Linked DNA regions of Homo sapiens. The protein of the gene in region 3 interacts with the protein of the main gene of each other region in a pairwise test. Each region holds a gene or a part of one and is shown on either strand. Other genes may lie near its edges.

Region 1 (5,692 bases), on a different chromosome or scaffold from region 3:
GACTTTTGGAACGAGTACAGACTTCTTATATGACATGAAGCCCACGGAGTCCTGTTCAGCTTATATACTAACAACTGGTTTAATTAGACTCAACATATTAATGGTTTAACATGTCACTGAAGAAAGCATAGAAGTAAAAACAATTTTCAAAATACATTTGTGTATAGTTGGTAAATTCATGTTCCTGCTATATTTGAATCACATAGATAGTTTTCCCAGGTGTGTTTTGAGATTTATAAATCATTTTACATCTAAGGATAAAAAAGAAACAGGTAAACTCAATAGGTGAGAAATCTGCTGAAACCAGCTAATTGATTTGTTTTTTTTACTTTCTTTTTCATAAAAACCCAATCTGTACAAAAAAAGATTTCCTTCTGCCCTGTGAAACAGGTTCATTAATTCATAAGAAATCTCCTTCTTTAAGATGTGGTCCTATGAAAACCTTGGTACCCCAATTGTTTCATGCAGTGTTGTTAGGACAGCTATTTGCAGATCCCAATTCCAAATGTAAAACTACCTTCTCACCCACAAACTTTCCTTTGCATTCTAAAAAAAAAAAAAAAAAAAATTTAAGGAAAAAAAAACCTCAGAATCATCATAACCCAAAGAGATCCAGTTTACTATATAAAATATCTCCAATAAATAGTGTAGCTTCTTCCTCCCAAACTGACTTTTCAGGGCATAGATCCAACAGGTGTGAGGTTTCTTCTAACTGATTTCTATAATTTCTCATTTAGGAAAAATGGCATTCTTTTTCAAAAGGAACTGGTGATCAATCACACAATAGTCATCAGTAGTCATAAATGACTAAGCAGGACCCAAAACACTGATCAGGATCAGTATTTTATTGACAGTAAAAAAAATAAAGGGAAAGCAAGCAAGAACCTAACATTATATGATTTTTGTGAAATTCAAAGTATAAGGTTTCTGTGAGCTCACTGTCATGTATTTCAGGCAATGGCCACAACCTAGAAAGTCAATAAAAGCTAAACTAAAATCCAGAATAGAGATCTTGAAACACTCAAGGCACTGACCACACTGAACCAAAAATAAAATTATAAAGAGACTTCAGTACATTGATAACTCAAAAATTCAAATTATAAACACCAAAAAATAAGTAAATTGAATAAAACTTTTATTATTTATTAGCAGTGTATTCTTCTACACTTTAAAATAGAGCAAAATATCTTTTGGAAGATAAACTATTCATAACAAAATACATGTCAAACAATTTTTATTATCAGAGTAAAATTACTTTGCTATATACTTTCTATATTATATACATCCACTTCTTGGTGTGTCTATGTAGGCACATGTGTAAAGTAATTTTTAGACATATACATGTACATACATATGACACATATACACACATAATTATGGGAAATTTACAGTAGTCAACTTTACAATCATTTTAATAGCTTCACACAAATTAGTGTTCACAGAACTAAAACTGTCAACATGATTCCCTTTCCCCTACTTCTCAAATGTCATCTGAATTACTTTTTATGATAACTTGAAAAAAATACTGTCATCTTCCTATACAATTAACCAATTTTTATAATAACTCATAATAAAATATTTTACTTTTTTAACTTTAGAAAAGATACATAATTCCACTTATTTTAGTTTTTGATTCCTAAATCATACAATTCGTTTTTTTCATCAGTTGAGTGTAATTTTTGGTACTGCAGTTACTGAAGGTTAATTTAACAAACCTGAGTCAAACATTCATTCAAATGCCTTTTTTAAAAACATAAAACATGAACAAGATGTTTTGATGAAGCATATATAATAGACTCAAGGTACCCTCCCCTAATAAATACATTATAAATAACTCAATGGTTGGGAGTAAAGCACTTCATATGAATCCATTTAACTAGCACTTTCAGTGTCGAAGCAGTCCATTCTTAAGCAGCCTGGAAGGATATCAGGATGTAACGCTCCTCGATTCCTCATAGAAATGAAACCTACAGGCTTCTGAAGACCTAAATATCAGATCATACTTACATGAAAGGGCTGTGAGTACCTATAAGGGTCCTTTCATTTTCATAGTAGGTTCCAGATATGCTAGCGTGTGCAGCAGGGGGTTGTACCCTGTTTTAAAAATATCTCCTTTAATACAGAGAACTACTTAGCAGCATCTTTTTCAGTTTTTTCTCTCCATTGATTTAAAACTGATGTCAAACCATGTGTGATTACAGGCAACAACAACCTCATACCCAAAGCAGGATATCCTAATTGGGTTAAGAACTCTTTTGAAAGGAGGAAGGAAAAAAAAACATTTGGAATATTGAGTCATTTCATAGAGAAAAACCATGAAACCATGCTCTCAGAAGAAATATTCAGTGAATTCTGATCTTTCACTGCATGCTGTATTTTAAAGCCCCCCAGGATGCAAAACTAACTCAAATTGGCTCAGCAACAAAAACAATAGGAAAGGGAATTGTCCTAAATAAGCCATCCCATGCCATTATACTCTTGGTAGAGATAAACTTGGATAAACTCAGTGTAACTAAACTGACTTCCCAAAAGAATGAACTGACCTGCCATATTTATAGTGCGAGCATAAAAATCACTTTCTAAAAACTTTCTCCCTTACTTCTTCTTAATAAGAAGGAATTATTTATTCATTAGAGACAAAACCATACTAAAACTAAACAGATTTAAAATACAAATTTTTGGTAGCAAACAGCAGGAAAATCTAAATCAAAATATAGTGTAGTTTTTACATAATTTTATATATTTATAAATTTATCAAAATAGTCTTTTAAAGTTCACAATACATATATAATGTAACACTGTACATGTAAATATAATAATAAATGTATTACCAAAATACATTAAAAATAACCCTTCAAAATACCAAATTCAACATTAAAACTGTCTTTAAAAGTATGGAAATCTCCATAAACATAGTTTCAGTGCATTTATAGTAGTCATTAACCAGTTTTCTGTTTTCAAGTCTCTTGAAGGTGTTATCTTAGTGCTCTTTTTAATTTAAGGTAAGAAGGCAGAGATATTCTTCCAGCAAGAAGTTGCTTTCCCTCTCCACTGCTCGTCCAGATGAAGAAATTGTGTCTAAGAGAAGAACAGCTTTCACTGGAGTGGCAAGGCCTTAGTAATGAACATATTCAGACTGAAGGGACTGTGCAGGGAGAGACATAAACTGAGGTTAAATTCCATCACATGTAAAACTTCTAGCAAGTCATGCAGCTTCTCCCTTCCACACAAGACAGCTTAGAGATCAATGAAATAAACTAAGCCAAAACAGAAACAAAAAGACAGGAGACACAAAGCATTAGCTAGGTAAGAATGAGATATTCAATTACGCAAAGTGATTGTAAGAAAACTTTATATTTTAAAAGGTTTACTAATTTATTTATAGTGATTAAAAAATTAAGTTTTAATTTAAAAATCGGTAGGTAGCCTAAACTCATCTCTAAGCATTTCTACAATTAATGAGTTTTACTTAACAATATTAAAAGATACTTTTAACTAATTAAAGATTACTAGAATATACTTTGAGATGATATATCCTTAAATTTAATTCAGTACATATCAATGGCATGCTTCTAATGCAGTAGAATTAGCAGCCATTTAAATAAATTCCTTAAGCATGCTTGAATTTATAAATATCTTACACATCCTTTCCCTTAAGGGGAAATGAAGTACTACCAGCTTGAAATCTGATCTTAAGACCCAAAAACATTTATGCAGAAGAGTCTTGCTGTCGGAATTTAATAAACAATAGGCAATTTTCAAGTAAACCATACAAATTCTTCCACATCACATTAGATACTAACATATAAAAGGATTGTGATTGGGATATGTAATCAGAATGCCTGGGACAACAGACATAAACCAGGAAAAGATAGAGAGTTACAGAAAGTTTGCCAAACAGTTATTTTTTTTAGCAGGAAACAGTGATTAGAAAAAGGAACATAAATCAATCTAAACATTAACAAATTTTTTGCTCAATTCTTCCAATTAAATACCTGAGGATAACAAAGTTTACTTGATTTTCTAGTAAATGCCCTTTTCTCCCACCCAATAATTATTTCTCAAATTAGTCTGTAACATTTCATTAACAGGTCTAGTCAATTATAAGACAGGTCCATTTTGGTGATGATATAGGTTATCAGTAAAAAAGAATCTGTCCATTTTCCAAAGAACTTACAAAAGGATTCAAGCTATCTTTTCTCAGCTTCAAAACTGCAGTGAATTTTACACCCCATGAACAGCCAAATGGCTGTTCCTGAGTAAGTCCCTGTTAACACAGTATGTCAAAGAGTTATGGTCCCTGACCGCAAAGGGCGAAAGCCACAATGTCATAACAGATGTGAAATGAAAAGACAGCGGTGTCGACATTAAATAGTAATATACATAGTGTAAAGTTAACATCGTGCACCAGGAAAGGCTTAGGTGAGAGGTAGTAAGGGAAATGGGTGGTTCTCAAGGCTGCCAGTTTCAAGAGCTGTAGGAAGAATGGAAAAGGTTTGGCTATTGACTTTCTTGTATGTGGTTCATGCTAATACTTCAAAATAGGTGTGAGATGATCAAGAATCAGAGCACTATACTATAAATATACCTGAACCCACAGTGCGAATAAAAGAGGTAAGACCCTAAGAAAGTCCAGTGAAGTTGGTCAAAAGCCTTGAAGCCCATATACATTCCACTTGAGGGACGCCAGCTACCACACTCGCAATTAGAGCATAAACATTTTTCTACCTGCTTTTTCTCGGTTTCTTCTAAGTCTGGCAAGCAGTCAGAGGGCAGAGCCAGTTAAGTCCCCCAGCTATAAGAATGCCACAAAGGTATGTTGTGCGTGTATGTGTGTGTGTGTAGCTCAGCTAGTGCTTTCTTGAGAATATTTAACTTTTACTTTTGTTCCGATTAGTAAAGTTGTGCATGTTATCACTAACAGAAATCAGAAATTCTTCAAACTGCATATAACTTAGAACAAAGTTGTTTTTGCAAGCTCCATCAATTATCAATAAACAGAGATGTAGCAAATAAACATTAGACAAGCGACCTTTGTTAAACCAACTTTTTTATAGGGTAAAGTATTTCATATGTACATCAATATAGAGGGGCAAATATGTGTGTGTGCATATATTTATATATATAAACACACACATATATATATTCATTTATTTACATATTTATTTAGTGAATCACAGTACCCAGTGAACTGGAAAACAGAAATAGTCTAGAACATTTTAAAGATTTCTATTATTCATATGGAGAATATATTCATTAGTCTTCTATCCAAAGCCTTTACTTCCACAGAGCTCAAAAACTCTGGCTGGTGTTTAATCTAGGCTCAGATACAGCTCACCACAAGCCCCACTATTTCCTTTTCCAACCCCCTAGTTTGCTCTCTTATGTTGCCTAACTGGCCCTGCAGGCCTCTGCAAACAAATGATGACACCATTTGGCCAACGAATTGACCTTCTGTCCCACCAGTTCAATTCATTCAACAAATAATTACTGAACATAAGTTGTATCTATTAAGCACTAGAGGATAAAAATACAATACCAAAGTCCTCAAAACAAAACATGTTCCATGGTTTCTTTATATGGTATAAAGGAAAGTGAAATGAAAGATCAGTAAAAAGGGTTCAGCAAATTATTCTGACATCAGTATTTTGTAACAAATTAACTTCCTTTCATTTTCAATCTAAAATAAAAA
Region 2 (7,000 bases), on a different chromosome or scaffold from region 3:
GGGTGAAATGGCACTTTGGTTCAGAATGGTTTCAAGTTTGGCTTGAGACCCTGCTTAGTCATAAATCCTCTACATCAATGAATTGTGACCAGAAACTTCAAACTCGTGAAGGAAAATAATCTTGTTTTGTACAACTTTTTATCCTACTGACCTAGGAAATAAATGTCGTGTAACAGGGCTTTTGTTTTTTACTACCCAATAGCCCAAATGTGAAATATAAATACAAAAGCATGACATTTAAGGTGGTTAAAGTAATTTACATCTTTAAAGGGGTTTACTACAAAACATTTACATTAGAGTAAAACAAAAAATGTTCATTCATAAAAATAATTTCCTAGATTTTTGTGTCTTCAAAATAATCCATTCAGAAATTTCAGCTGAAAATGGCAGTAAGAATTTTAAATCATAAGATTTTAAATAGGCAGTGAATTATACTTCAATTATGCCTCGATAAAGTTGTAAAAACAGGGAAAACGTAGCCACAGCCACAGGGTTGCTTACCGTGCTTTGCTTCACTCGCTGGTGAGGGGAGTTGAACAGGAAGGTGCCAAACAGTGAGATCCGGGTGCTGTCATACAACACTGCCAGGTAGGTTTCGGAGAACTCAAAAGCTGCAGGATATTGTTCTAACAGCTGCCAGGTGGCATCCAAGAATAGCAAAAATAAAGGAGACTGGCAAATACAAAGAGACAATGGGATCATTTAATGTTATCCTTCAGCCGTTCACATTTACTTCAAAATGTACTGCTGATGTTAAAGAAGAGATGAATGAGAAAACATCGAAGCCTAAAACACTTGCCTTCTAAGCTGAGCTATACACATCTATCAAACCCAAGAAGTAACATTCAACCGTGATAAACATCACAACCCTTATTTGCCCAGTACATGTAACAAGTTGAAACAGCAAAGCACACAGTTGAGCGGGTTGCCACTATATGAAGGGGGAAGAGCAAAATATGTGTTTAAGCATGTCTTAGAAACAATTCTTTAGATTATATAACAAAACAAAACCATCAACCAAACTTCTCTAATGTTTGGTTGATCCTGTAGGCTCAGCATCCAGAAAACATCCCCATATTTCAGAAAACACTTTGGGATGAGCCTAGGTCACGTGGTGTGTCCCCAAGTGCAGTAGCGGGTGACCACTATTTTTTATGAGACACCACAAGTCAAATGGCGCTCTCTGAAACAACCTTCTAAAAACTGATCTGACTGACCTGCCTGGCCGGTAAGATATTTGTAAGGCCTTCCGCAGCCTAACTAGAGATCCGAGGCAGCCACTAACTCCACAGCTGTTGCAAAGGTGGCCCTCTCAAACTTTTCATCTTAACCTATGTATCCCATTTTAAGAAAATATGATATTCCAAAAGTGATTTTTCAAAATAGCCAATGTGCTTGTTATCTGTTTTTCAGTATTTTATTCAGAATTTTTTCAGTAGTTTTCCACTTAGACAAATTCAATAGACAACTTTTAAAAATTTCACCTTCATAGTTACGATAATCTTTATAATAAGTACATCAATTTGAACTCTAATCCATTAGTTAGCTTTGGACTAAGGAAATTAAGTTGTACTAAATACAGTATTTTTTAAAAGCCCCTTCATCTTTTAATGACACAAATTTTATTTTGTGTATCCTTAAAGACTGATAAAAAGGCATCAAGATTTTGTTACCTCTTTCTCTGATCTCTTTAGATGGTTGCATCTGTCTAGAAACTGATATCCTGCCATGACCCACTCCTTCTGTATCAGACTCTGAAATCCAGTAATTGTCCTAAAATAGGGATCCAGCATCACTTGAACAAGAGAAGCTACACAACAGCTCAAGTCTCTTCCTTCCTCCTCTGTTAATAAAATGGAAAGAAAATGATTACAACATAGAAAAATGCTGAGAGAGAAAGGGAAGGAAAGGTAAACTAGATAATTTAGTATTCTGCACACCTAGGCTGCCTTCCAAATCTGTATAAGGAAATTTTACTGGATTCCAGCAACTCTAAAATATTACAGACTTGTAGATAAACTAAATTAGCATTTAATAGGAGATGGTCTTTTATACATGGATATTTGCCAGATAATAGAAGCTCATCACTCATACTTTTTACATTCGAATGGTTTGTGGTAGAAAATCCGTCTAGACTCCATTCTACTGCTCTTTTGTCAAGGTATTAAGTATAAGGTAATCTTTCTACTGACAGGCCACATGGCAATACTGAGAAGTGAATGGGGAGAGTGGGACTGTTCACTACCAACTGAAGCTGTGGCAAACGATTCCCTCCTGTCTTTTATAGTTGTTGTCCTTTCCAATAAGGCCAGAATTGCCACGCTATCAAAGTCAGCCAGGGAAATCAGAAGACAACTATTGACCAATATCCCTTATGATTACAGATGTAAAAATCAATAAAAATATGAGTAAACCAAATTATCCAGGAATGCAAAGTTGGTTTAACATCTGTCAATTGTAGTAACGTACCACAGTAATAAAGGACAAAACCAACACGATTATCTCATTAGATGCGGAAAAAGCATCTGATACAATTCTACCTTCATTCCTGATTAGGAATAAAAGTAAACATATTTAAACTGATCAGAGACATCCACAAAAACCTACAATTAATGTTATTCCCATTTCACTGGTGAAAGACTGGATACTCTCTCCCTAAGATCAGGAAGATGATAAGGATGTCTGTTCTCTACACTTCTCCATCTCATTGAACTGGAGAATCTAGCCAGAGCAATTAGGCAAGAAAAAGAAAATAAAAGGCATTCAGATCAGAAAGAAAAAGGTAAAAACTGTCTTTGAAGACAATATGATCCTGTATGTAAAAACTCCTACGGAATCCACAAAATAACTACTAGAATTAATAAATGAGGTCAGTAAGGTTACAGAAATTCTGTACACAACAATCTGAGTACATAGTAAACCTGAAAATGAAATTAACAATTATATTCACAGTGACATAAAAATAAAATACTTAAGAGATTTAACAAAATAAATATAAGACTTACATAATAAAACACTGCTGATAAAATGAAAGATCTAAATAAATGAAGCAGCATAATTCATAACAGCCACAAAGTGGAAACAACCCAAATGTCCATCAACAGGTAAATGGGTAAGCAAAATGCATTTACAAACAGTGGAATACAATTCAGAAATAAAAAGGAAAAGATTGCTGATACACACTACATGAATGAACCTCAAAAACATGTATGTTGAATGAAAGAAGCCAGCGGCAAAAGGCCACATATTGTATGATTCCATTTATATGAAATGCCCAGAAAGGGAAAATCTAGAGACAGAAAGATTAGTGGCTGCCTGGAGCTGGGACTTTTGGGGTGATGAAAAATTTCCAAAACTAGACTCTGTATATTTACTAAAATTTACTGAATTACAAATTAAAAATGGGTGAATTCCATAGTATGTAAATTTTTAACAAACTGTTTAAAAATAAACGTATATAAAAATGCTAGTAAAATGAAGGTTCAGTGCTACTTCTGAGGCCTTTTCTATTACAAATGCATGGAGAAATGGAGGATGAGTAGGGTTCTCCAATACGATGAGAACACCCACTGGATGAGAGAAATTGTGATTATTAGGCTCTGCATGCATTTGTGAGTTAAACACACACTCTGACTGTATCAGTTCAGGATTACTTTATATGACACATTACTATTTGATTTTTTTCTAAGAGTCTTAAAGATTTTTGCCTTGTTAAAGTCAATCAAGTTTGGCAGTTGTTAAATGTACTTCTGCAAGCCTGGCCAGGCACGGTGGCTCACGCCTATAATCCTAGCACTTTGGGAGGCTGAGGTGGGCAGACCACCTGAGGGCAGGAGTTCGAGAGCAGCCTGGCCAACAAGGTGAAACCCCATCTCTAGTAAAAATACAAAAATTAGCCGGGCGTGGTGGTGCATGCTTGTAATCCCAGCTACTTGGGAGGCTGAAGCAGGAGAATCGCTTGAACCCAGGAGGTGGAGGTTGCAGTGAGCTGAGATCGTTCCACTGCACTCCAGCCTAGGTGACAGGAGCGAAACTCCATCTCAAAAAAAAAAAAAGTACTTCTGCAAGCTTAAGCAACATTTTGTATTCATATACTATGCAACATGAGTATATAGTCTTCCCTCAGTATCCATGGGGAACTCATTCCAGGGCCTCCTTTGGATACCAAGATCCACAAATGCTTAAGTCCTGGATATAAAATGATGTTAATATTTGCATATAACCTATGCACATCCTCCTGTACACTTTAAGTTACCTCTAGATTACTTATAACACCTAATACAATGTAAATGCTATGTAAACAGTTGTTATACTATACTGTTTAGAGAATAATGACAACAAAAAAAAAGTCTGTTCATGTTCATTACGGCCAAAGCTTTCCCCCGCCAATATTTTCAGTCCTGGGTTGGTTGACCACAGATGGGGAAGCCATGGGTACAAAGGACCTACTACTGTATTATACGAAGGTAGTTTTTAGTCTATTGAACTTTATCTGCAAACTTACAAATTCTATTAGCTGTAAGTTATTTAATATGTAATTATCCTTTGCTTAACTGAAAGATTTTTACATCACCGTTTATTCCTACCAAATATTACATTACTAGCTATTCAGCAGTTCAGTCTAAATTTCTTCATCTCAAACTGCTTCCTTAGAGTCATAATCTAGCATGAGCCAGAAGGTATTTAAACTAAAACAAATTTGTACAAATTAGACAGCAAAATTACAGAGAGAGAATGCCCTGTCAAAATTAACACTAAGTATTAATCCATTAGGGGATGGGACCCACCCTTCCCATAAAATAGGAAGGATAATTTAATAAAGGGTAAAAACTGGACTACTTTCTATTCTTCTATTTGCAGTCCTTGTGCCACTGGTTTTTATTTATTTTTTTTTTGAGTCTTGCTGTGTTGCCCAGGCTGGAGTGCAGTGGTGCGATCTCTGCTCACTGCAACCTCCGCCTCCTAGGTTCAAGTGATACTCCTGCCTCGGCCTCCCGAGTAGCTGAGACTACAGGCGCACACCACCACTCCTGACTAATTTTTGTATTTTTAGTAGAGACAAGGTTTCACCACGTTGGCCAGGCTGATCTCAAACTTCTGACCTCAAGTGATCCGCCCGCCTCGACCTCCCAAAGTCTGGGATTACAGGCTTCAGCCACTGCGCCCAGCCTGTGCCACTGTTTTACTCAAATGATGTGCAAAATCTGTAATGTATTTGATGGTACTGTAGTAAATAAGAAATAGCTAAAACTGATGTGATTTACTTGAATGGGGACAAGCAGTAAACCAAGGCTGGCTGGTATGGTGGTCATGGTGCTTTCAGGAGTTACTTTAGTTACCTTGTAGGACTACAGAGAGATGTTTGCTTTCTAGCATGTATACAAGTTCTGCTGAATGCTTAAGGAATGCCCTGAAGAGAGAAAAGGAAAAGCAGTGTTAAAAATCAAATTTCCACTACAAATACATAAAGTACTTGAAATCAAGCAAATCTAATTTCTCACTTTACAGATGCTCTCTGATCATGATATTCCCATAACTCATGACCCATGATAACCCACTGTAAGCTGAAAATACCCTAAACTGAGACTGTGTGGCTGACTGGCAGCTGTGGCTCCCTGCTGCTACTCAGCATCACAAGAGAGGATTGACTGCTTTCTACTGAATGCACATAGCTTTCGCATTACCGTAAAGTTTCTTTAGTTACTTATACGATTTCTCAAAGGAGTATATTTTGTAATTTTTGTTTTCTTTTTAAGAGACAGGCTCTCATTTTGTCACCCACACTAGAGTGCAGTGGCATATCACAGCTCATTGTAACCCTGAACTCCTGGCCTCAAGTGATCCTCCTGCCTCCACCTCCTGAGCAGCTAGGACCACAGGCACGAGCCACCATGCCTGCCTAGTTTTAAAATTTTTTTGTGGAGATGGGCATCTCACTATGTTCCTCGGCTGGTTGTGAACTCCTGGCCTCAAGTGATCCTCCTGCCTCAGGCTCCCTAGGACAGCAGGCACATGCCACCATGCCTGGCTAGTTTCCAACTTTTTTGTGGAGATGGGGTCTCACTGTGTTGCTCAGGCTGGTTGTGAACTACTGGCCTCAAGTGATCTTCCTCCCCAGAGCTTTGGAATTACTGGCATGAGCTACCACAACCGGCCCCACTTTGTAAATTTTTTTTTTTGAGATGGAGACTTGCTCTATCACCCAGGCTGCAGTGCAGTGGCGTGATCTTGACTCAATGCAACCTCTGCCTCCCAGGTTCAAGTGATTCTCCTGCCTCAGCCTCCTGAGTAGCTGGGACTACAGGTGCGTGCCACCATGCTTGGCTAATTTTTGTATTTTTAGCAGAGACAAGGTTTCACCATGTTGGCCAGGCTGGTCTTGAACTCCTGACCTCAGGTGAGCCACCCGCCTTGGCCTCCCAAAGTGCTGGGATTACAGGCATGAGCCACCACGCCTGGCCTCATTTTGTACTTTTTCATCAGGGAAATTCATAAACCCTTTATGAAAAGGAAGGGGTTGACTTATGACAAAACTATAGAGATTGAGAAGAGATTAGTGGTAGTCAACAGACACAGATGGCGATGAGGGTGCACCTATAAGAAGGCTAGCACAGGGGAGCCTTGTCATGGAACAGGTCTGTATCTCCCTGTGGTGGTGGTTACGTGAACCTACACACGTGATAAAATCGCACAGCTGTGTTAAGGGCATGCACACAGACGACAGCATGTATGAACTGGTGAGTAAGAGCTATCCAGTGTCCCAGTGTCAGCTTCCTGGTTTGGATGCTGTACTCTAGTTACGAGATGTTACTATTGGGGGAAGTTGGATGAAGAGTAAGTACATGGCCCTCTGTGCTATTTTTGTACCTCCAGTGAGTCTGTAGTTATCTCAAAATAAAAAGTTAAAGGAAAAGAAAGTAAAGAAGTACAAACCTTACATATTCTAACCATCGAGTATTTTCCAGTGAAGATAACCATTTCTCTTCAGTTTCTTCAAAAG
Region 3 (8,420 bases):
CTTTGTCTCAGGAAAAAAAAAAAAAAAAATTTAGCCAGGTATGGTGATGCACACCTATAATCCCAACTATTTGGGAGGCTGAGGCTGGAGGATCATTTGAGCTCGGGAGCTGGAGGTTCCAGTGAGCTATGATCACACTACTGTACTGGAGCCTGGATGACAGCAAGACCCTGTCTCCAAAAAAATGTCTAAGACATTGCTGGAGCCTTGAAAAAAAGAAAAAAAATGCAGAATTCGGGGCCCCACTCCACAGCTTCCAACCCAGGCTCTAGGGGTGGGACCCAGGTAGATGTGTATTTAACAAGTGCTCTGGGTGATACTTCATGTGTGTTCAAGTTGGGGAACTCTGGCTTTGATCAGTCATTCCACAGATGCTGACTGAGGCTGACACTGAGCCATGCCAGTGTCCCTTGCTGTGCTCTGAGAAGGAGGCCTGTGGCATTTGAGAGTGTGTGATGCAAACAGGGCCAGATCAGGTGCTGGGTGTTAGAGGGTAGAGCCCAGAAGACGGAGAGCTCTGGGAATGCATTCAGTCAACAGAGATTTGTCGAGCACCTTGTGCTAGCTCTTCCCAGTACTGGATGCAACTGTGAACAAAGCAGGCAGAAGCCCCTCTCCTTGTGGAGTTCATATTCTAACAGCGGGGACAAAGCCAGTAAGAAAAACTATCAAATGAACAAATATAATTTTAGGTGCCAGTAGAACAAGGGAGAACAATGAAATAGGGCAAGTGATAGAGAAAGGGCAGGGCCAGTGAGAGTTTAGGGAAGACTTCTGTAAAAGGTGCATTGGAGTTGGTATTTAAATTAAGAAGGGAGCCAGCCATGTGATAGGCCCTGAGATGGAAATGGGCTTGTATGTTGGAGGAACAGTAGTCGCCTGTGTGGCTTGAGTTGAATAAACGATGGTGAGAGGGGTTGAAGTTGCCTGAGAGGTGGAAACTAAATCCCATAGGCCTTGTAAAAGCATAGTAAGGACTTTGGCTTCGGCATCAGTTATCCATTGCTACATAGCAAACCACTTCAAAACGTGGTGGCACTTTGGGAGGCCGAGGCAGGTGGATCACTTGAGGTCAGGAGTTTGAGACCAGCCTGGCCAACATGGTGAAACCCCATCTCTACTAAAAATACAAAAATGGCTGGGTGCAGTGGCTCACGCCTTGTAATCCCAGCACTTTGGGAGGCCGAGGCAGGTGGATCACGAGGTCAGGAATTCGAGACCAGCCTGACCAACGTGCTGAAACCCCGTCTCTACTAAAAATACAAAAATTAGCCAGGTGTGGTGGCATGTGCCTGTAATCCCAGCTACTCAGGAGGCGGAGGTTGCAGTGAGCCGAGATTGCGCCACTGCACTCCAGCCTGGGCGACAGAGCGAGACTCTATCTCAAAATAAAATAAAAAATACAAAAAAAAAAATTATCCAGGCATGGTGGCACATGCCTGTAATCCCAGCTACTTGGGAGGCTGAGGCAGGAGAATCGCTTGAACCTGGGAGGTGGAGGTTGCAGTGAACAGAGATCGCGCCACTGCACTCCAGCCTGGGTGACAGAGCAAGACTCCAACTCAAAAAAAAAAAAAACCAAACCGTAGTGACTTGAAACAACAAACAACAGCCGTTGACATGCTTATGATTCTGTGGACAGGTTCAGGTGGGCCCGCTCGTCTACCTGGTGTGCTATCGGCTGGGTGTACACGTTTGCAGTCAGCTGATGGGTGAGCTGGCCTGGTCCCTGGCGGCCACACTCACCTGTCTGGCAGTTGACTGGGGCTATTGACCAGGGTGCCTTAGTTCTCCTCCACATGGCATCTCCAGTAGGCTAGCCAGGCTTCCTCACCTGGCAGCTGGGTTCCGAGAGGGCAAAAGTGGAAGCTGCAGTACTACCACTGTGTTCTGTTGGACAAGGGAAGTCACAGGCCACTCAGATTCCAGGGACTAGAAAAATACACCATGACCCAGTTCAGTGGCTCACGCTGCAATCCCAGTATTTTAGGAGGCCAAGGTGGGAGGACTGCTTGAGCCTAGGAGTTTGAGACCAGCCTGGACCACATGGCCAGACCCCGTCTCTACTAAAAATAAAAAAAAAATTAGCTGGGCCTGGTGGTACGCGCCTGTGGTCCTAGCCACTTTGGAGGCTGAGGTGAGAGGGTTGCTTGAGCCTGGGACGCTGAGGCTGCAGTAAGCCATAGTGGCGTGACTGCACTCCAGCCTAGGTAACAGGATGAGACCCTGTCTCACACACACAAAAAGAAATAAACTCTACCTCTTGATGGGAAAGTGTCAACATCACATTGAAAAGAGTTGAAAGGGATGGGAGGATTGTTTATAACTATCATTGCAAGCAGCCTACCACACCACATTGGATGGGAAGGTCTTGCAGGGTTTTGAGTGGAAGACTGATTTTTCAGAAGATCGCTCTGGCTGTTTTGAGACTAGAATGTTAGGGCCAAGAGTATAAACAAGGAGACCCATACTAAGTAGATGACTATAATAGTCTAGGGGAGATACTGAAGGAGCTTGAACAGAGGCAGTAGCGGTGGGGGTGAGAGGTGGTCAAATTCAGGATATATTTAGGAGCCCCAGTAGATAGGGTTTGGTAGAACGAGTGTGATGGGGGTGGGGTATAGAGAGAAGACAAGGCTAGCTTTTTGGCTTTCTTAACTGACTAGATAGTTCTATTGACTGAGATAGGGAAAATGAGTGAGCAGGTTTTGGGGGAAGTCAGGTGTTCTCTTTAGCACACGTAAAGTTTGAGATGCCTGTTGGATATCCAGTTGGAAATGCCAGTAGGCAATTGGATTTATAGGAATCAGGATGTAGTTTTGGGAACCAACCATTCATGTTGTATTGAAGGTTGTGGACTGGATGAGTGAGTGTTGCTAAAACAGAACAGATTTCTGAGGACTGCGCCTTGGCATTTTATGGTGTAATAAGAAGAACAAGGGTTTCAGAGTCATATAGACCAGAGTTTTAAATTCTGTCACTATTAGGTATTAGCAAATCACCATTACTTCTTCTTTTTTTATTATTGTTATTATTATTTTTTATCTTTTATTTGAGATGGAGTCTCACTCTTTCGCCCAGGCTGGAGTGCAGTGGCGTGATCTCGGCTCACTGCAACCTCCACCTCCCAGGTTCAAGCGATTCTTGTGCCTCAGCCTCCCCAGTAGCTGGGATTACAGGTGCCCGCCACCACACCCGGCCAATGTTTTTGTATTTTTAGTAGAGACGGGGTTTCACTATGTTGGCCAGACTGGTTTTGAACTCCTGACCTCAAATGATCTGCCCGCCTTTGCCTCTTAAAGTGCTGGGATTACAGGCGTGAGCCACTGTGCCTGGCCACCATTACTTCTTTGAACATCTGTTTTCTTAGCTGTAAAGTGCGTGTTGGAATACATACCTTGGGGGGTTTGTTTTTTTTGTTTTTTTAGAGATGGGGGTTTCACTCTGTTGCCTAGGCTAGAGTGCAGTGTCTTACAGCAGCCCTCCCGCCTCGGCCTCCCAAAGTGCTGGGATTACAGGTGTGAGCCACCACTCCCTGCCTACCATAGGGGCTTATAACTAAGATAATGTTAACTAAGTTAATTAATGTGACAGTTAACTAAGATAATGTTCAAAAGGTGCTGGTGGCCGGGCGTGGTGGCTCATGCCTGTAATCTTAGCACTTGGGGAGGCTTGAAGCCAGGAGTTTGAGACCAGCCTGGGCAACATAGCAAGACCCCATCACTACAGAAAATAAAAAAATTAGCCAAGTATTGTGGTGCATGCCTGTGGTCCCAGCTATTTGGGAGGCTGAGGTGGGAAAAATCACTTGAGCCTATGAGTTCGAGACTGTAGTGAGCCATAATTGTGTCACTCTACTCCAGCCTGGGTGACAGAGTGAGAACCTGTCTTAAAAGAAAAAAAATTTTAAAAAAGGTGCTGGCACCTGGGTCTTCCGTAAAGGGAAACTCCTGCCATCTGAGGAGCATGGGGCTTCTGAACTCAGGGCCTAGAATGGTAGTAGGATTTCTTGGAGATGGATCCTTTAGTTTTGGAGACCTGTGAAGCAGCCTTCACTGTTTCCTTCCTGTCTGTCTAGCTGTGCCCTCCTGGCTGAAGAAGCCCCAAGACAGCCAGCTGGAGGAGGGCAAACCCGGCTACTTGGATTGCCTGACCCAGGCCACACCAAAACCTACAGTTGTCTGGTACAGAAACCAGATGCTCATCTCAGAGGTGAGAAAGAAGAGTGTTGCTAGTGGATGGGCGGGGCCTTCCCTCCACTTGCCCTCTTCTGTGCTCACCTCCATAGCACTCTTACCCTGGAGGCAGCCTCCAGGGAGAGGTGGGTGTGGGTTCAGGCTCTGAGGCCTCTCACCTGTGCTGCAGGACTCACGGTTCGAGGTCTTCAAGAATGGGACCTTGCGCATCAACAGCGTGGAGGTGTATGATGGGACATGGTACCGTTGTATGAGCAGCACCCCAGCCGGCAGCATCGAGGCGCAAGCCCGTGTCCAAGTGCTGGGTGAGCCAGCATGTCTTGGGGGAGCACCCTTCCTGGCTAGGCAGGAGAGGAAAGGGGAGGGAGCAGCAGGCCTGGCCACGGCCTCTCCAGCGGCCCCAATTCCTCGTCTTTCTACCCACCCTCTGCTGAAACAGAAAAGCTCAAGTTCACACCACCACCCCAGCCACAGCAGTGCATGGAGTTTGACAAGGAGGCCACGGTGCCCTGTTCAGCCACAGGCCGAGAGAAGCCCACTATTAAGTGGGAACGGGCAGGTGGGTACAGTGCCGGCATAGGGTAGGGGCAGGCAGGCAGTTCACTGATCAGATACATACCTGAGGGCTGCTGGGTGCCCCGCACTGTGCCAGGAAATGTGGAGATTAGACAAGCAGTGCAGGGCTGATGTATAGTTTAGTTAGGAAGGAAAAAGCCAGACACAGAAGAGGTCAGATTATAGCCTTGGACAACATGGAAGACAACTCAAGGCAACAAGTGATTGGATTGGTTCAGACAGTGCTGTAAAGTCCTCTCTTCCCCTTTTCCAAAATAGTTTATCTTTTCCAACATAAAAATTACATGGAGGCCGTGCATAGTGGCTCACGCCTGTAATCCCAACACTTTGGGAAGCCGAGATGGGTGGGTCACTTGAGGCCAGGAGTTTGAGACCAGCCTGGCCAACATGGTGAAACCCCATCTCTACTAAAAATGCAAAAGTTAGCCAGGCGTGGTGGCACATGCTTGCAATCCCAGCTGCTTAGGAGGCTGAAGCAGGAGAATCGCTTGAACCCAGGAGGTGGAGGCTGCAGTGGGCCGAGATCATGCCATTGCACCAGAGTCTGGCTGACAGAGTGAGACTCTGACTCAAAAGAAAAAAGAAACAAAAGTTACATGGGCTCCTTTACAAAATACTGGAAGAGGCCGGGCGTGGTGGCTCACGCCTGTAATCCCAGCACTGTGGGAAGCTGAGGTGGGTGGATCACGAGGTCATGAGATAGAGACCATCCTGGCTAACATAGAGTAGTGAAACCTCGTCTCTACTGAAAATACAAAAAATTAGCCAGGGGTGGCGGCACGCATCTGTAGTGCCAGCTACTCGGGAGGCTGAGGTAGGAGAATTGTTTGAACCCAGGAGGCGGAGGTGGCAGTGAGCCGAGATTGTGCCACTGCACTTCAGCCTGGGTGGCAGAGCGAGACTCCATCTCAAAAAAAAAAAAAAAAATATTGGGAGAAAAAATGTACAGTCCTGCCGTTTATCATCTTTGGGTGTATGTCTTCTTTTTCTGTGCATATGTTTTTCTTTTTTTACCTAGCAGTTTTATTGTATATATAGTTTCAGTTATTAAATTTACATGATTGGCTGAGTGTGGTAGCTCATGCCTGTAATCCCAGCACTTTGGGAGGCCGAGGTGGGAGGATCGCTTGAGCCCAGGAGTTCAAGACCAACCTGGGCAATACAGGGAGACCCTGTCTGTACAAAAAATTTAAAAATTAGCCAGGCATGGTGGTGCATGCCTGTAGACATGCTTATTGTAGAATTAGACAATACAGATAACTATGTAGTTTTTAAAAATATTTTTTAAAATTATTTATTTTTATTTTTTTTGTAACGGTGTAATTTTATACCCTTTTTTACTTACCATTGTCAAGCATTTCCCCACATCTTTATACACTCTTCATGAATATTTGTTTTGATGATCCTAATAATATTTCAACAATTGGATTCACTGTAATTTACTTAACTGTTCCTTAAATGTTGGAGATTTGGGTTGTTAACCAGCCACCCACCCACCCCCTTTTTTTTCATTGCTGCAATAAACATCTTTAAGCCAAAGTTTTTTTCTGGATTTAGGTTTATTTCCTTTGGGAAAGATTCCCAGAATTGGGATAATTATGCACGAAAGGGGGTATGAACATTTTTATAGCCCTTGATGTGAGTTGCCAAATTATTTTTTAAAAGGTTGGACCAATTTTGACATTTCCACCTAGAGTGAGAGAGTACAGTTGTAGATTCTGAGGAGGAAGTAGGCTCCCTCTGCTCAGGTCTGGGGGAACTTTCTGGGAGAGGTGAGGCTTAAAATGGATCTACAGCCTGGGATGGTAAAGAGCGGGAATGGGCTCTAGGAGGGAGAAGTGATGGGCAGCGGAGTAGGAACAGGGCCGATCTGGGCCCAAACAGAGTCCGGTTTGGCAGACGTGGAATGTCACACAGGGCAGTAGGAGGAAGAGGTGAGACTGAAGAATTGGAAGAGGGGTAAATAACGGAGGGGCTTCTAACACTTGGCTCAGGAGTTTGGACTTTGCCTGTGGGTGGTCAGGAGCGATGGTGTGTTTTTGAGTAGAGGTGAGGGACTGAAGGCATTGCCAGCTGTCTGTGTAACCCTGATCCTTCCCATAATTTCCCTTTGTTACCCCTGCAGATGGGAGCAGCCTCCCAGAGTGGGTGACAGACAACGCTGGGACCCTGCATTTTGCCCGGGTGACTCGAGATGACGCTGGCAACTACACTTGCATTGCCTCCAACGGGCCGCAGGGCCAGATTCGTGCCCATGTCCAGCTCACTGTGGCAGGTGCGACCGTGGCAGGGCCCTGGGGCTGGGAGGGCCCTCTGGGGTAGCACCGTGTACCCTGCCAGCCCCTTGGCTTACCCCTCCCTGCGCCTCGCTGGTCTCTTTTCTTCCAGTTTTTATCACCTTCAAAGTGGAACCAGAGCGTACGACTGTGTACCAGGGCCACACAGCCCTACTGCAGTGCGAGGCCCAGGGGGACCCCAAGCCGCTGATTCAGTGGAAAGGCAAGGACCGCATCCTGGACCCCACCAAGCTGGGACCCAGGTAGGGCCACCTCTCTCCCACACCCGTCCCTCCTCTCCTGCAGCCCCCCTCCCTGCGAGCTGGCCAGCACTATGGCTTCTCCCCCGACAGGATGCACATCTTCCAGAATGGCTCCCTGGTGATCCATGACGTGGCCCCTGAGGACTCAGGCCGCTACACCTGCATTGCAGGCAACAGCTGCAACATCAAGCACACGGAGGCCCCCCTCTATGTCGTGGGTATGGGCTGGGGAGGGTTATGCTGCACAGGAAGTGGTGGGCCCAGACGTTTGTCACCTTGTACTCAGCCCCTGTGTACAGAACATGGCACAGAAGCCATTTTTGTGGCAGCGGTGGGGATTCGGCCGTCTCACCATGCTGCTGCACAGTCTTAGAGTCCTTGCTCAGAGCCGGGCTGTCGTTTATTTAACATCCAACGGTCGGTGTGTGTGTGTGTGTGTTGTGGGGGAGTGGGGGGGTGTTCTCTTCCTACAATGCTGCCTCCCAGGTTCCTGCAGCAGCCACACATATCTCTGGGTGGCTGGGGAGGAGGACCAGGTCAGAATGCAGTAGGACAAGGTTCTTTTCTCCAGGAGGCCCAGAGAGGATGATGGGTCAGGTAAAAGGCCCTGCACTTAACTCTCTGCCCCTGGGAGACTTATTTCTCCTCTGGGGACTTGTTTCTGCATCCACAGGTGAAAGTGGTTTAAATGAGAAGCTCTTAAACTTTCTTGGTTTGGCAGCAGAGTTATTTTTCTAGACAAAGTATAATGTGAAAGTTTAAATGGATGAAAATGAACTGAGGAGGCCCCCTTGGTGGGAGCCACTGGGGTGTGTGTGGCAGTTGGGGGATCCTGCATGGTCTCCCTTCATTCCCCTAATGCCTCTTGAGGCCCCTCAGTGTGGGCCATTAAAAGGCCCCTAGACCAGCAGATCCCTTCTACAGATCTGCTTATTGAAAAACCTGCTCTGTGCCAGGCAGTGCCTGGAATTCTAAACCTGAAGCTCCCAAATGCTGCTCTCCGGGGCCTGGCTCACATTATCAAGTCACTTGGGAAGCTTAACAAATAACGTGGGTTTGTGGTAGCTCCTTGACAGGTGTGCTTATCCGTGTCGCCTGTCTTGGCTTCC
Region 4 (8,416 bases), on a different chromosome or scaffold from region 3:
TTCTGGTTGATACCTTTTTGGTACGGGTCGAGGCCTTTCCCACAACCAACAAACGAGCTCCTACTCTCCAAATTAATAACAGAAATCATCCCCAGGTTCGGGGTGCCTCTTTCTTTTCAATCTGATAATGGCCCTGAATTCATTTCTCAAATTATTCAAACACTTGCACAAGCCCTACAAATCACCTGGAAGTTGCACCTCCCCTCTCGACCTCAATCTTCAGGAAAGGTTGAAGAAATGAATGGCATTCTACAAAAACACCCTCACCAGGTACTCACACCAAACACATAAAGACTGGGTTACACTTTTGCCTTTAGCCCTTCTAAAAATTCGGGTGCTCCAATGTAAACTTCTAACGCTCAGCACCTTTGAACTCATGTATGGGAGACCATTTGCCCCTCTGCTCCACCTCAGGGTCAAGCCCCACCTCCACCAATCCCTCTCATTTCCCCTCTTGTACATACCATCTGCCATTTCATTTAGGAATATGCTGACAAATACCTGCCACAACCCATCACCGACTCCTTTAATCCCTCCCTACAGCCAGGAGACTGGGTTCTGGTAAAATACCCCAGTCCTACCCTCAATTCCTGCTTCACACCTAAGTGGAAGGGACCTTACCAGATCATCCTTACCACACCCACAGCACCGAAACTCCAGGGACTCCCCAGCTGGTTTCATTGTACTTCTCTCAAGAAAACAGACTTCCCTTCACCACATACCCAAACAACCAAGTCTGAAACCCCTTCGGCCTTCTCTCGTGTCTCCCAGGACCCACTTCTCTTCGCCTCACCCAAATCCCTGAGGAAAAGGAGGAGAAATCCACATAAGCCGCTTATGTCTCTTTCTCTCCCAAACTTTCATCACTTCCTAACTAACCTTGTTACAGACCTTCAGTGGTGCCCTTAGGAAGCTCCCATTATACATCCTGATCAGCTCGTTACTGCTCTATGGGACCTATGGCTTCAAGGAACTTTCCAGGACTTTACTCCTACCCAAATAACTTTTTTCGCTTTTTGCTTGTTTCTTTCAATATAAATTCCCTAATCACATCAACCTCATCAATACAACCACTCCTCACTGCTCTCAAACTAGAACGCTCTATAAACCTTACACAATCTCTCTTGCGGCAAGCTAACTCTTCCTTTGCTCTGGAATGCTGGGTGTGTTTATCGCTGTCTTCCTTAGCTTACACAGCCCTTCCTACATTCCTTCATGACCTTTTAACAGGAAACACAACCCTAATTTATAAACTCCAAAAAGGAGCTTCCTTTTTTGAAAGAGCTGACACTCTAGTCGGTGATTATCCCACTTCCAGGGCCGATCAGGCCAACAAATTATTTCAAACCTAGGATAACTCCCTACAGCGCCTTAAGCCCCACGGCCCTCCCATTGAAGGGCCCATAACTAAACACACTCCTCCTCTTATAATGAGCCTCACTTTGCTTTTCAGCCTCGGAGGGAAATTTCCCTGTAGGGTCCTTAACATCTAACCTATGCAACCACACTATCATTGTTAAACACCCCTCTGACCATCAAACTAACCAGGCTAACTACCAAGTATCACCTGAAGCGAACGGAGCATTTCTGCAGCTGGCTCGTTTGACAGCCTTTCCCTCAGCCAATGCCTCCAGCCTAACCTGTGCTGCTCCTAGTGCCCACAATTTTCCTTGGCTCAATATCAATAGTGCAGCATCCGACCGCATTAAATCTGTAAAAAATAACTCTTCCTATACCTCTAGTATAGTAGGTGTCTCCCAGGCCTCCTCCTTGTCCACCTGGAGTAATGAACCACAGGAAAGAACAAACACCTCATCTTTAATTCACTTATTTTCTGTCCATATCTCTGCTTGTATTTACAATAAAGGCTTGTTCTTTTTGTGTGGTCTCAACACATATTTCTTTGTCTCCCCATCAACCAGACCAGAACCTGTACCCTAGTTTATCTTTCTCCCTCCATTGGACTAGTTCCTCCTAATCAATCTTTACCCGTTCCATCCATCCAATATGTTAGGAAGAGGAGAGCCATCCACGTCATTCCTTTAATGGCTGCCTTAGGTATAACCTCCGGGCTTGGGTTGGGAGCAGGCTGATTCGCCACCTGCTTAACATACTTGAAATCTCTTTCAACAGAACTGCAGAGTTCATTAGAGCATATGGCCCAAAGCCTTATAAGAGTCCAAGGCCAACTAGACTCCTTGGCTGGAGTAGACTCCTTGGCTGGAGTAGTCCTCCAAAATAGACAGGAATTAGATGTTATAACAACTGAAAGAGGGGACCTCTGCCTCTCATTCGGTAAAAAATGTTGCTTCTATCTCAATCAGTTGGGCCTAGTAAGAGACGCTGCTAAAAAACTTAAAGAAAGGGCTAAAAAGCTAAGAGAATAACAAGACAACCAAATAAATTACTGGTTTAAAAACAAAGTCCTAATATGGGTCATCCCATTCCTGGGCTCTCTCCTAAAAATATGCCTAGGAATAATGTTCTTACCCTGCTTAATTAACCTTTTTCTAAGTTTTTTTTATTTTTTTGAGACGGAGTCTTGCTCAGTCGCCCAGGCTGGAGTGCAGTGGCGAGATCTCGGCTCACTGCAAGCTCCGCCTCCTGGGTTCACACCATTCTCCTGCCTCAGCCTCCCAAGTAGCTGGGACTACAGGCACCCGCCACCATGCCTGGCTATTTTTTTTTTTTTTTTGTATTTTTAGTAGAGACGGGGTTTCACCATGTTAGCCAGGATGGTCTCGATCTCCTGACCTCGTGACCCACCCGCCTTGGCCTCCCAAAGTGCTGGGATTACACGCGTGAGCCACCGCGCCTGGCCACCTTTTTCAAAGATTTTTAACCAGCAGGATCATGGCCATCTCACAGACAATTACCCAAAAACATCTACAGACAGCGTTACTCCTACAATCAATCTGAAACCAAAGAACTCTCTGCTCACTCCCCCAGCAGGAAGTAGCCAGAAAAAATGCGCTGCCCCTTGTCCTTTTCATAACTATAGAGACTGGATTGATAGAGCAGGAGCATTGCCATCTTGGACAAACACCACCTTTCTAAGTTCCCCTTGATTAAAAAACCACCTAAATCCTACCCCAAAACATCAGCCTAACGGCTAATGTCAGCATAACCAGAAATATTCCAACCCTAAGATAAACCTCTCTTCAACCAGAAACATGCTAACCCTGAAATAACCTCTCCTCCAATAGCCTCCCCTCCGACCAGAGACATTCCAACCCTGCAATAAACGTTCCCCCACTTCCAAAACCCTTAAATATCCTTAGTCTGTAAGAGAGAATGCTTAGTCTGTAAGAGAGAGCGCTCCTGATCGAAATTGGCCAGAATCCCCTCTCAGGTTTATTCTCTGAAATAAACCTTTTAATGTTGAGCCGCTTTTTGTATTTATTTCCTCTTTCTTTAACGGTTACAAGCATTGTTACTTGAGTGTTTCTGCTGTAATGGAGGAGGCAGCATGAATATCTCAAACGGTTGCTAGTGAGAAGCCACGCAGATGAGAGGCATGAAGCCTTGTTGGGCTCCCTCCATGTCCTACAGCCAGAGAGCGTCAGAAATACATCTGCCCCAGAATGAACTGGGCTGAAAACTCTTTGCATGGAGGGAGACCACATAACCTGGGGAACTTGGGTAAACGATGTTGGAACGGAGGTGTAAGATTTGGGTTTGTGTTAGTTGATTTGGGGAAACATTTATGGAAACGGGCCTTTGCTCCGGATTGGATGTCAGGAAGAGGAGGATTCCATGATTGGATATCTTGATGAAGCTTATCTAGACGGCAGGAGGACGAGACAAAGGCTAAACATGTAATGGTAAAGAAGCAGCAATCACTCTTATTGGCCAAGACGAGGGGAATGTGGTCACTTTTGTGGCTTGGACAGTGTTCCTGTTTTGTCTGTGTTCACACTTGATTACACAGTGGTCTGTTTTTTTCTCTTGATCTGTATCACGGCCTGATGTTGGTGTTTTATGAAATTGTTCACATTCAAAGAGAACACCCAGGCCTAGCTGTTTGTGCCAGACCAACCCCAAGTCCTGGCTGCAGAACCAGGCCAGCTCCCCGATGTCAGTGGCCGCCTTTCTCTTTACAGGCATGGAGGGGGACACCATTAAGGAGGAGCCCCTCTTCTCCGCTCCCCACAGACACCAGTGGGTGCAGACAAGTCAGGGAATGCCTCCTTTCCCTCCGGCATCTTTTGAGGTTTCCGTCCTGACGCCCAGGGCCGCTCCATCCAAGCCTCGGTTTCTCAGTCTCTAAAACAGGCCAGAAACCAGGCACGCCGTGGTGAAAGGACGAGCCGAAGAGATGGCAAGAGCTCCAGAAAGCCTTCCCAGGCATCAGGGGCTGCCCTTGAGCTCAGACGTTTCTCTCTGGACAGGGCTTCTTGGACAGGAACTCAACGAAACTTGACAGAAATCGGACACCCCCAGCCAAGGAAAAGCAGGAGGGGCCCGGGGTTCGCCAAGGCGGGAAACACCGCGGGGCCCAGACGGCGCCGTCCGCCCGGCTCGCAGTCGGGGCGCGGGAGGGGCCCACGCGCATGCGCACCGCCCCGCCCCCAGCCGCCCCGCCCAGCCCGCGCGCAGCCCTCTGGGGCGGCCGGGCCACGCCGCGCGCCGATTGGTGGCGTCCGGGACTCTCCCTGCAGGTGACTGACGGCGCCGGCCGCCCCTGCCCGTCGCCCGCCCGCTGCTGCCGCCCGCCCGGGGTGTGGAGCCCGGCCGCTGCTCGCGGGCTGAGTGTCTGTCGCTGCTGCCGCCTCCACCCAGCCTCCGCCATGGACCTCTTCGGGGACCTGCCGGAGCCCGAGCGCTCGCCGCGCCCGGCTGCCGGTAAGCGGCGTTGCCGCCGGGCCGGCCAGGGAAGGGAGAGCAGGCGGGATGGGGGCGGCCTGAGGCCCGGGGCGGCTGAGGCGGCGCCCGCGCTGGGAGGCGGCGGGCGGCGCGGGCTGCACGGGGCCTGCTCCTGCCTGGCCAGGCCCCGTCCGGCCCACTGGCGGCCCTGTCGGAGGCCCGGTCGCTCGCGGAGCTCGGAGAGGCCGCTCCGCCATTTTCGCTACGCAGGAAGGAAAGGGCCGAGCCGTCGTGGCCACGGCCCCTCTGCGTGGCGGTGAAAGGCGCCGGCGCGACCGCGTGGGCCGACCCGAGGGACCGGCTCTGAACGCCCGGCGGCACCGCGGGCCCCCGCGCCCCGATTCCACCCGCGGCCTGGGCTGCCTTGCGCGTCGCCCGCCCGCGGCTTCCGGGCCGCACTTCACCCGCGGGCTGTGGAACGGCCGCGTTCCGGGCCGGTGCAAGTTCAGGGGCTTGGCGTTTTTATTTGCACTGGAGATTGAATTAATCACCATCTTAATCCTTCGTGTTTTTGAAGCCTGGAAGACAGGATGCCTCCTCTGTCATCCTGTGATTTTGTGATAATTAACAGTAGTTTTTTTTTTTTTTTTCTGGTCCACGGGAAGTTCCCCCTCTCCTTGAAGTTAAGGGGTCCGCTCATCTCCTAAGCGCTGGCCCCTGCCAGTGGGAGTCCCTGTGGGCTGTGGTTTGAGCTCAGCATCCTAGCAGCTTGAAACAGGGCCTGTGTTAATCCCTGCGTCCTGTGGGTTACAGTCTCCGGGTTTCATCTGTCAAAACGCGTGAATATTTCATATGCAAGACTTCCAGCTTGATGTTGTAGTTTAGGGCCTTATTACAAAATTTAACTTGGGGGCAGAAAACCTGGAAAACTTAAGACGTTCAGATTTCCAGGCCCACCTCAGCCCCAGTAAATCCGAATCCCTGAGAGTGGGGTTTCCGAATCTGTTACTAAATCCCCAGGCCAACCCAGCGGGGGCTGGAGACCAGTGGTTTGGGAGCTGCTGTTGTAGGGTAGACGGAGGTGAGTAAGGCCCAGCCTTCGCTTTCTAAGAGCTGCTTTCTGAAGGGTACTAATTACGGTAATTAAAACTGGCAAAAGTTAATGACTGTGGGAAATGCTGAGGACTCTTGAGGAGGGATTGTCGGGCACCGAGAGACTGGGGAAGGAGGCAGTGTTTGAATTGAGCTTCCAAGGATGTTCAGGCTTGTGATTTGCAGTAATTCTGGGCGAGAAAACATTTTATTTTATTTTACTTTTTGAGACGGAGTCTCACTCTTGTCGCCCAGGCTGGAGTGCAATGGTGAGATCTGAGCTCACTGCAACCTCCGGGTTCAAACAATTCTCCTGCCTAGGCCTCCCTACTAGCTGAGATTACAGGCGCCGACCACCACACCCGGCTAATTTTTATATTTTTAGTAGAGACGGGGTTTCACCATGTTGGGTAGGGTGGTCTTGAACTCCTGACCTCAGGTGATCCGCCCGCCTCGGCCTCCCAAATTGCTGGGATTACAGGTGTGAGCCACCGTGCCCTGCCCCCACTGACCGTTCTGATGGTACAGAGCATCTCAGTAACTGGTCCTGGAGTCTTTGAACTTGACTCAGCCATTCATTTTCAAAATAACCACGGTTTTAGCTGTGGGTAAAAATTGGATTTGTGTAGCAGTCTTTTTTCTCTTGTCAATGGAGTATAATTTCTATCTGAATATATTTGGGACAGCATTTGGATTCACCAGTGTGCGTGTAAACCTATGAGTCTTAAAATCTCCATTGCTTTTTACCTGCAATTAATTAGGTTCTGCTCAGGAGCAGGCTCCCTTGACTGACAAAAAACCTGGCAACTCAGAATCTCATAGGTTGGCACCTTAGCAGCCTTTTGCCAGATACAGTGGGAAAGGTACATCCTGTTGCCGTTTTTTCCAAACTCAGTTTCCAACCTTGACTGAGCTGAAAGGGTGGCAGAGGGGGTGCATGGTGTTTAAACTGCTGACCACCCTGAGATTGGATTGGTCAGCTGCTCCCCATCTGCCAGGAGGGCACTGACATTGTCAACAGGTCCTGCTTGGCTGAGTGTATTTTTAAAAATAGCTTTAAAACGAAGAAGATCTCAGAATTTGTAGATGATTGGAAGCTGAGAGGGATAAGTACTAAAATGAGTGACAATTGGGATCCATAGTTATCATTGCAGGCTGTTAGCTACAACCAACAAGATGAGATTTGACAGGTTAAAATCGTTTGTACAAGAACAGAATCTGGTTTCACATACTTGTGAAAATACTGTGATTTAAAAAAAAAAAACATACTTTGAATAAATCATATTGATTGCTAAAGTGAATGGAATAATGAGTCTAAACTGTGCATCATGACCCTCACACATGATATGTGGGTACCACAAATCTCTAATGCAGTGAACAATAAAAGACCTCGTTATTTTCCCAGAGCGCAAGAAAAGTTGTTCAGAAAGTGTAACCAGACTACTTGGTTTAGAATCCAGCTCTTCGCTTACTAACTGTGCCTTCTGTGGCTATTCCTACATGTGTAAAAAGGGGTGACACTTGCCACTGTTACTGTACAAATTAGTACAGTATGTATGGTGCTGCACATAGTGTGGGGTAGAATGTATAGTGTTTTATAGATGTTAGCCAGGGTTATTATTTTTGAGACAGCCTCATTGTGTCGCCCAGGCTGGAGTGCAGTGACATAAACACAGCTCACTGCAGTCTCGACCTCCGTGGGCACAGGTGATTCTTCCACCTCAGCCTCCTTGGTAGCTGGGACTACAGGTGCGCACCACCACAGCCAGCTAATTTTTGTATGTTTTGTAGAGACAAGGCTTTGCCATGTTGCCCAGGCTGCTCTCGAACTCCTGGGGCTCAAGTGTTCTGCCCACCTTGGCCCTCCCAGAGTGCTGGGATTACAGTGGTAAGCCACTGTGCCTGGCTGAGCCATTAACAGTTGTTTAAAAGTGGAAAAACGCAGTCTTAAATGAATTATGGGAAAGCACTGAGTGTCCAAAGGGAGAATACTACACTGCTTATATCACATCAAATGTATTAATATTTTGTTTAGATCTTTTTATTTTTGTTTTAAACGTTGCATCTAATGTTCCCACCCCTAAACCTCTTAAATGTTTATAATCTAGAAAAATACATAGAATGCACTAAATATTTCAGGTATTTTGCTAAATTAGTAGTTTTCATCCAAGCCCTTAAAAGTTTTAATTGCTGAATGAATCAAGTTTTTTAAAGGAGAGATGTATATATTTTACCTAAAAAAAAGTGTTTGTTCATATCAGGCAGAAATGGAACTTTCCTATGTCATACCCATAAAAGTGCCGACCTGATGTCTTTAAGATTGGCAGCTTATATTGACAATCCATGTATGTCAGTTGAAGGTGTCATGGTTTAAAATTGCTTCGCCAGTAACTTGATTTCACTTTTATAGGGTGGTTCTTTTACTTATTTGGTTGCTACACTAGTACTTTAAAAATTGATGGTCAGTTGTTGAGGAGGAAATAAAATATTTGATGGCCACACCATCTTAAAAATACTT

Evidence for each region.
Region 1: the proteins of PTK7 (region 3) and CDC14A interact in a two-hybrid assay, tested with the Homo sapiens proteins (one study listed by BioGRID and IntAct).
Region 2: the proteins of PTK7 (region 3) and MTMR10 interact in a two-hybrid assay, tested with the Homo sapiens proteins (one study listed by BioGRID and IntAct).
Region 4: the proteins of PTK7 (region 3) and ILKAP interact in a two-hybrid assay, tested with the Homo sapiens proteins (one study listed by BioGRID and IntAct).

Annotation. Positions count from the first base shown.
Region 1 is NC_000001.11:100,515,704-100,521,395, reverse strand, and holds the end of CDC14A (dual specificity protein phosphatase CDC14A), read right to left. Parts: intron 3,146-5,692; coding exon 3,116-3,145; 3' UTR 1,119-3,115; downstream 1-1,118. UniProt on the Homo sapiens protein: Dual-specificity phosphatase. Required for centrosome separation and productive cytokinesis during cell division. Dephosphorylates SIRT2 around early anaphase.
Region 2 is NC_000015.10:30,946,629-30,953,628, forward strand, and holds part of MTMR10 (myotubularin-related protein 10), read right to left. Parts: coding exon 6,934-7,000; intron 5,411-6,933; coding exon 5,340-5,410; intron 1,844-5,339; coding exon 1,674-1,843; intron 673-1,673; coding exon 502-672; intron 152-501; coding exon of another isoform or gene 98-151; exon of another isoform or gene 1-97.
Region 3 is NC_000006.12:43,134,771-43,143,190, forward strand, and holds part of PTK7 (inactive tyrosine-protein kinase 7 isoform a precursor), read left to right. Parts: intron 1-4,078; coding exon 4,079-4,212; intron 4,213-4,365; coding exon 4,366-4,501; intron 4,502-4,635; coding exon 4,636-4,755; intron 4,756-6,897; coding exon 6,898-7,047; intron 7,048-7,160; coding exon 7,161-7,311; intron 7,312-7,401; coding exon 7,402-7,529; intron 7,530-8,420. UniProt on the Homo sapiens protein: Inactive tyrosine kinase involved in Wnt signaling pathway. Component of both the non-canonical (also known as the Wnt/planar cell polarity signaling) and the canonical Wnt signaling pathway.
Region 4 is NC_000002.12:238,199,928-238,208,343, reverse strand, and holds the start of ILKAP (integrin-linked kinase-associated serine/threonine phosphatase 2C), read left to right. Parts: upstream 1-4,648; 5' UTR 4,649-4,790; coding exon 4,791-4,845; intron 4,846-8,416. UniProt on the Homo sapiens protein: Protein phosphatase that may play a role in regulation of cell cycle progression via dephosphorylation of its substrates whose appropriate phosphorylation states might be crucial for cell proliferation.